Linked DNA regions of Homo sapiens. The protein of the gene in region 2 purifies or fractionates together with the protein of the main gene of each other region. This does not show direct contact. Each region holds a gene or a part of one and is shown on either strand. Other genes may lie near its edges.

Region 1 (2,788 bases), on a different chromosome or scaffold from region 2:
GGAGGCTGACGTGGGTGGATCACCTGACGTCAGGAGTTCAAGACCAGCCTGAAACATAGTGAAACCCTGTCTCTACTAAAAATACAAAAATTAGCTGGGTGTGGTGGCAGTCACCTGTAATCCCAGCTACTCAGGAGGCTGAGGCAGGAGAATTGCTTGAATCCACGAGGCGGAGGCTGCAGTGAACTGAGATCATGCCACTGTACTCCAGCCTGGGTGACAGAGCAAGACTTTGTCTTTAAAAAAAAAAAAAAAAAAAAGATTCTGATATGTGAAAAAGGCTGCAACAATATGCCTAGTTAAAGCTTTTTGTATTTATGTATTTACTTTTTAAAATTTTAAATTAATAGAGACAAGGTCTTAACCCTGTTGCCCAGGTTTAAGTACAGCAGCATGATTATGGCTCACTGCAGCCCTGAACTCTCAGCCCATGCGATCCTCCTACCTCCATCTCCTGAGTAGTTGGGACTACAGGCATGTACTACCACACTTGGCTAATTTAAAAATTATTTTTTACAATTATTTGTAGAGACATGGTCTCACAGTGTTGCCCAGGAACTCCTGGGCTCAAGCAGTGCACCAACCTTGGCCTCCCAAAGTGCTGAATTACTGAGTTCTCTCTGTATTGTCCAGGCTGGCCTCAAACTCCTGGGCTCCAGCGATCCTCTTGCTTCAGCCTCCTGAGTAGCTGGGACTATAGGTGCACACCACCATATCTGGCTTTTCTACACCTTTAAAAAAATTTATTTTTATTTTGTAAGTTCCAGCATACATGTGCAGGATGTGCAGGTTTGTTACATAGGTAAACATGTGCCATGGCGATTTGCTCCACCTATCAACCCATTACCTAGGTATCAAGCCCAGCATGCATTAGCTGTTTTTCCTGTTGTTCTCCCACCCCTCATCCCTCAACCCCCACCAACAGGCCCTAGTGTGTGTTCTCCTCCCTGTGTCCTTGTGTTCTTGTTGTTCAGCCCCCACTTATAAGTGAGAACATGCAGTGTTTGGTTTTCTGTTCTTGCATTAGTTTGCTGAGGATAATGGCTTCCAGCTCCATCCATGTCCCTGCATAGGACATGATCTCTTTCCTTTTTATGGCTGCGTAGTATTCCATAGTGTATATTTACCACATTTTCTTTATCCAGTCTATCATAGATGGGCATTTGGGTTGATTCCTTATCTTTGCTATTGTGAATAGTGCTGCCATGAACATATGTGTGCATGTATCTTTATAATAGAATGAATTGTGTTCTTTTGGATATATACCCAGTAATGGGATTGCTGGGTCAAATGGTATTTCTGGTTCTAGGTCTTTGAGGAATTGCCACACTGTCTTCCACAATGGTTGAACTAATTTACATTCCCACCAACAGTGTAAAAGTGTTCCCATTTCTCCACAGCCTCGCCAGCATCTCTTGTTTCTTGACTCTCTCTTTTTTTTGAAAAAGAGGCTCACTTTGTCACTCAGGCTGGAGTGGAGTGGCGTGATCTCAGCTCATTGCAACCTCCTCCTGGGTTCAGACGATTGTCCTGCCTCAGCGTCCTGAGTAGCTGGGATTACAGGTGCCGCTGTCATGCCTGGCTAATTTTTCTATTTTTAGTAGAGATGGGGTTTCACCATGTTAGCCAGGTTGGTCTCAAACTCCTGATCTCAAGTGAGCCACCTGCCTCGGCCTCCCAAAGTGGTGGGATTACAGGCATAAGCCACTGGGCCCAGCCTGTTTCTTGACTTTTTAATAACTGGCATTCTGACTGATGTGACATGGTATCTCATTGTGGTTTTGATTTGTGTTTCTCTAATGATCAGTGATGTTGATCTTTTTTTCATGTTTTTTTGGCCACATAAATGTCTTCTTTTGAGAAGTGTTCATGTTCTTTGTCCACTTTCTAATTGGGTTTTTTTAATTGTAAATTTGTTTAAGTTGCTTTTACAACTTTTGATGATGACCATGCGGTTCACTTTTGCCTTAAATTTTAAAAAGAATGTATTTAAACGGTTTCTTTTATAATGCTTTTATTGTTCTTAATGTTACTTTGATAATCTGAAGCAAATTAATTGTATAATTTCTTTCAAATTACAAAGGAATTGCTATTTTATAGCATTAGTGGTACATTTTGACTTGTAATCCCCAAATGGAGAGTTAAAAAATAATTTCTGGGCCGGGCGTGGTGGCTCATGCCTGTCATCCCAGCACTTTGGGAGGCCGAGGGGGGTGGATCACGAGGTCAGGAGATCAAGACCATCCTGGCTAACACGGTGAAACCCCATCTCTACTAAAAATACAAAAAATTAGCTGGGCGTGGTGGTGGGTGCCTGTAGTCCCAGCTACTCGGGAGGCTGAGGCAGGAGAATGGCATGAACCTGGGAGGCGGAGCTTGCAGTGAGCCGAGATGATGCCACTGCACTCCAGCCCTTGGCAACAGAGCGAGACTCCGTCTCAAAAAAAAAAAAAAAAACAAAACATTTCTGTTAAACTGTGATGGTTGTGAACGAGCCTCTCTTACCTTCTTTCCTGGTTCTGTTTTGGGGGAACTAAGAACTAAAAACGAAGAAGCTCAGGAGAAGACATTAAGAATTAACCATAGGCCAGGTGTAGTGGCTCACGCCTGTAATCCCAGCACTTTGGGAGGCTGAGGTGGGTAGATCGTGAGGTCAGGAGTTCGAGACCAGCCTGACCAACATGGTGAAACTCCCATCTCTACTAAAAAAAAAAAAAAAAGCAAAAATTAGCCGGGCGTGGTGGTGTGTGCCTGTATTCCCAGCTACTCAGGAGGCTGAGGCAGGAGA
Region 2 (4,100 bases):
CTGGGTAATTTATTAAGAAAAGAGGTTTAATTGATTCACAGTTCTGCATGGCTGAGGAGGCCTCAGAAAACTTACAATCATGGTGGAAGGCATCTCTTCACAGGGTGGCAGGAGAGAGAATGAGAGCTGAGCAAAGGGGAAAAAGCCCCTTATTAAACCATCATCCCCCATGATTCAATTACCTCCCACTGCATCCCTCCCACAACATGTGGGGATTATGGGAACTACAATTCAAGATGAGATTTGGGTGGGGACACAGCCAAATGATATCAGTTACTTTGTTGATTTTCTGTTTAGATAATTTGTCTAATGCTATGAGTGGGGTGTTGAAGCCCCTCACTATTATTGTATTGCAGTCTACCTCTGTCTTTAGACATAGAAATTTTTTTTAATGAATCTGGTTGCTCCAGTGCTGGGTGTGTATATATTTACAATTGTTATATCCTCTTACTGAATTGATCCCTTTATCATTATAAAATAAACTTGTTTGTTGTTGTTTTCTACTGTTTTTAACTTAAAGTCTGTTTTACCTAATGTAACTATAGCTACTTCTGCTTGCTTTTGGTTTCTGTTGGCATGGAATATCTTTTTCCACTTCTTTACTTTCAGTCTAAATGCTTTTACAGGTAAGGTGAGTTTCCTATTAGCAGCATATAGTTGAATCATGTTTTTTTTTTTTTTTTAAAGAAATCCATTCAGCCAGTCTATAGCTTTTATGTTGAGCATTTAATCCATATATGTTTAAAGTTATTATTGATATGTGGAGTTTTGTTCCTTTTGTCTTATTGTTAATTGCTTTCTGGTTATTTTATACATTGTTTCTTTTTCTCTTACTGTTTGTCATTGTGGACTGGTGGAATTCTGTAGTGGGCCCATTTGATTCATTTCTGTTCCTCCTTTGTGTGGTCGCTTTAACAGTGAGTTTTATACTTTCCTGTGTTTTCATGATGCTAACTTCCATTTTTTTGCTTCCAAGTTTAGGATTTCCTTGAACACTTCTTGTAGGGCCAGCCTAGTACAGACGAATGCCCTTGGCATTTGCTTGTTTGGGAAATACTTTATTTCTCTTTCATTTATGAAGGTTAATTTTGCTGGATATAGAATTCCTGGCTGATAGTTGTTTTCTTCCAGCTCTTTGAATTATCATCCCACTCTCTCCTGGCCTGTCAGGTTTCTGCTGAGAAGTACGGTTATTAGTCTGATCGGGTTTCCCTCACAGTTGATGAGATGTTCTCATCTTGCTGTTTTTAGAATTCACTCTTTGACTTTAGACAGTTTGATTTTAATGTGCTGTGGTGAAAACTTTTTTTTTTTTTTTGCATTGTATTTGGGGAATCACTGCACCGCCTATATCTGGATGTTTAAATCTCTTGCTAGACTTGTGATGTCTTCATCTATTATTGCATTAAATAGGTTTTCTAAGCCTTCTGATCTTTTTGTCCTTGCGGATACCAATAATTCAAATATTCAGCTGCTTTATGTTGTCCCAAATGTCTTAAAGGCTTTGTTTATTCTTTTTTATTTTTGTCTTACTGGATTGTTTCAGACCTGTATTCAAGTTCTAAAATTTTTTTGTTCCACTTAGTCTAGTCTATTGTTAAATCTTTTGAATGTATTTTATATTTCCTTCAATAAATTCTTCAATTCCAGAATTTATGTTAGGGTTTTTTTAAAAATAAAAATCTATCACCTTGTAAAATTTTTCATTTATATCCTGAATTGTTTCACTGAGTTCTTTGTATTGGTTTTCAGATTTCTCTTGCACCTCACTGACCATATTTAAAAATCAGTATTTTGAGTTCCTTATCTGAGACTTTAAGAATTTCATTCTGGTTATGATCTATTAGTGGAGAACTGTTGTGTTCATTCTGGGGTGTCATACTTCCTTGTTTTTCATGTTTCCTGTGAGACTCTGAATTTCTATCAAGTTTCCAGTTGATGCCAATAATGCTGATTCCACACAGCCTTTCTCAACCAGCATTCATTATCTGAACCATGGAACACAGAGAATGTTTTGAGAAGCTCTTTTCTCAATTCTCCCAAGGATGGTACCTAACCAGAACCATTCTAGATACAAATCAGGACACTGATTCCTTACATGCAATTAGTGCCTTTGGTTTAGGGCTTAATTTTTTTGAGGAAACTTGGTTGAGAAAGCTGTCTTTGTAAAGCTGCTAAAGAGAAAGGCTCAGACTCTGAAAAAGCTAGCTTTATAGAGAAAACTACACCATTACCACCTTTAATTCTAACCGGTCTTTTGTATCAATAATATCATATCGATGATAATGAAATAATTGGACTAATAGTGTTTTGGTCTACGAAATATCATCTATTAATTCAGTAATTATTTGTGGAGTACCTGCTATTGCTTAGCACTGTGATGCTGAAAACATTTGAAGAATAAATGATGAAATAATTATTCATAACTTTTAAGCACCTTCTTCCTGTTGTTCATCATTAAACTTAAGTGAAATATCTGTACATGACTCAGATACTTTAGAAAAATATTCTCAGCAAAAAATCCCAGCACAATTTTAATTTAATAAGTTTTAATAAGATTTAATAAGTTTTTATTAAATCTTTTTAATAAATAATCTTTTTAATAAAATAAGATTTATTAAATTTTAATTTAATAAGATTTAATAAGTTATTTGTGATGCCTCCTCACATAATTCTCACAATTCTGGGGATAGCCTAATAATTGCTAGCTGTAGACAGAGAGAAGAAATAGCCAAATCCAACAGCTTCAAAGGACCATACCTCGAATGCATGATTGTTATAGAAGCGGTCTTCTACCTTACTCCCCCATTCTGCTGGATCAAAGTTGGTTTCTAAATAATAAAAATATAAGAACTTCAGATTTATTTGAATTCATTAAGGTAAATGTAGAATAGTGACACAAATGTAAGTTTCTTGTTTCAAATTACAGGTTCTTTACTGGCAGTCCAAAATCTTATTGACATTGTGCATAGCGTAGCACTGCAGACATTACCAGTGATTATTAAACATATGATAACCAACTGAACATTGGATGAGCCTTTGGGGATATTTAGAAAAGCACTAAAAACGTAATTTCTGCCTTCATAAAATTTATAATAAAATGGGAAAAAGAACAAATGCCAGTACTTAAATATAAATGTAGACACTTAGAACATGTATTAGTAAACACAGAAAAATGTATAAACCTAAATGCTAAGTTGTCAGAAAGTCTGGAAAAGTGAAAGATGGGAGAAATTTTTTTTAATGAAGTATATTATGTAGACAGTTGACACAGACAAGCAGAGGTATTTATTTTTAAACAATTTTTTTCTTTAACTTTATATTATAAAAATTTCAATACTTAAAAAGTAGATATGATAACAAACTCCCATGAGCATACTGTCTAGATTCAATGATCAACCCATGATTTATTTTATTTATAACCTTTTCTTCTGATTATTTTTCTGCACTTTTTTCTGATTATTTTTAACCCAACCCCTTGCATCCTGTTATTTTATCTACAATTATTTATTTCAGAATGTATCTCAATATATACTCTTTTAAAATATAACCACACCACCATTATCATACTTCAAAATACTAAAAATATTAATAATTCCTCAATATCCTCAACTATTCAGTCAACTATCCAAATTTCTTCCATTGTCTATTTATTTGTTGGTTCAAATCAGGACCCCGAAAACGGGCACACACAGCTCTTTGTATGTCTTTTAAATTTCTTTTAAAGGAAGAGCCCCCAGCCCCTATTCTTTCCTTGCAATTTATCTGTTGATGAAATTACGTCATTTTCCCTTTGGAGTTTTTCACAGTTCAGATGTTTCTGACTATCCCCATGGTGGCTTTTAACAAGTTCTTCAGCCTTTGAATTTCCTGTAAACTGGTAGCTAGCTGTATAGGTTTGATCTAATTCGGGTTTGACGGTTTGATTTTTTTTCTGCAAGTATACTTGATTGGTAGTGCTGTGTAATTCTGTCATAAAATTTATAATATCTGGTTACTCTTTTTATAATTTTTATCGGCCCCCTGATGATCCTTGCTTAGATCATTTCCTTAGGGGTTGTGAAATGGTAATGCTCTAATTTGATCAATACTTCTTTATT

Evidence for each region.
Region 1: the proteins of SPA17 (region 2) and USP33 purify together in Homo sapiens (affinity purification with mass spectrometry; 2 studies listed by BioGRID and IntAct, with this or other methods). This does not show direct contact.

The regions. Positions count from the first base shown.
Region 1 is NC_000001.11:77,698,170-77,700,957, reverse strand, and holds part of USP33 (ubiquitin carboxyl-terminal hydrolase 33), read left to right. Parts: intron 1-2,788. UniProt on the Homo sapiens protein: Deubiquitinating enzyme involved in various processes such as centrosome duplication, cellular migration and beta-2 adrenergic receptor/ADRB2 recycling.
Region 2 is NC_000011.10:124,680,120-124,684,219, reverse strand, and holds part of SPA17 (sperm surface protein Sp17), read right to left. Parts: intron 2,832-4,100; coding exon 2,761-2,831; intron 1-2,760. UniProt on the Homo sapiens protein: Sperm surface zona pellucida binding protein. Helps to bind spermatozoa to the zona pellucida with high affinity. Might function in binding zona pellucida and carbohydrates.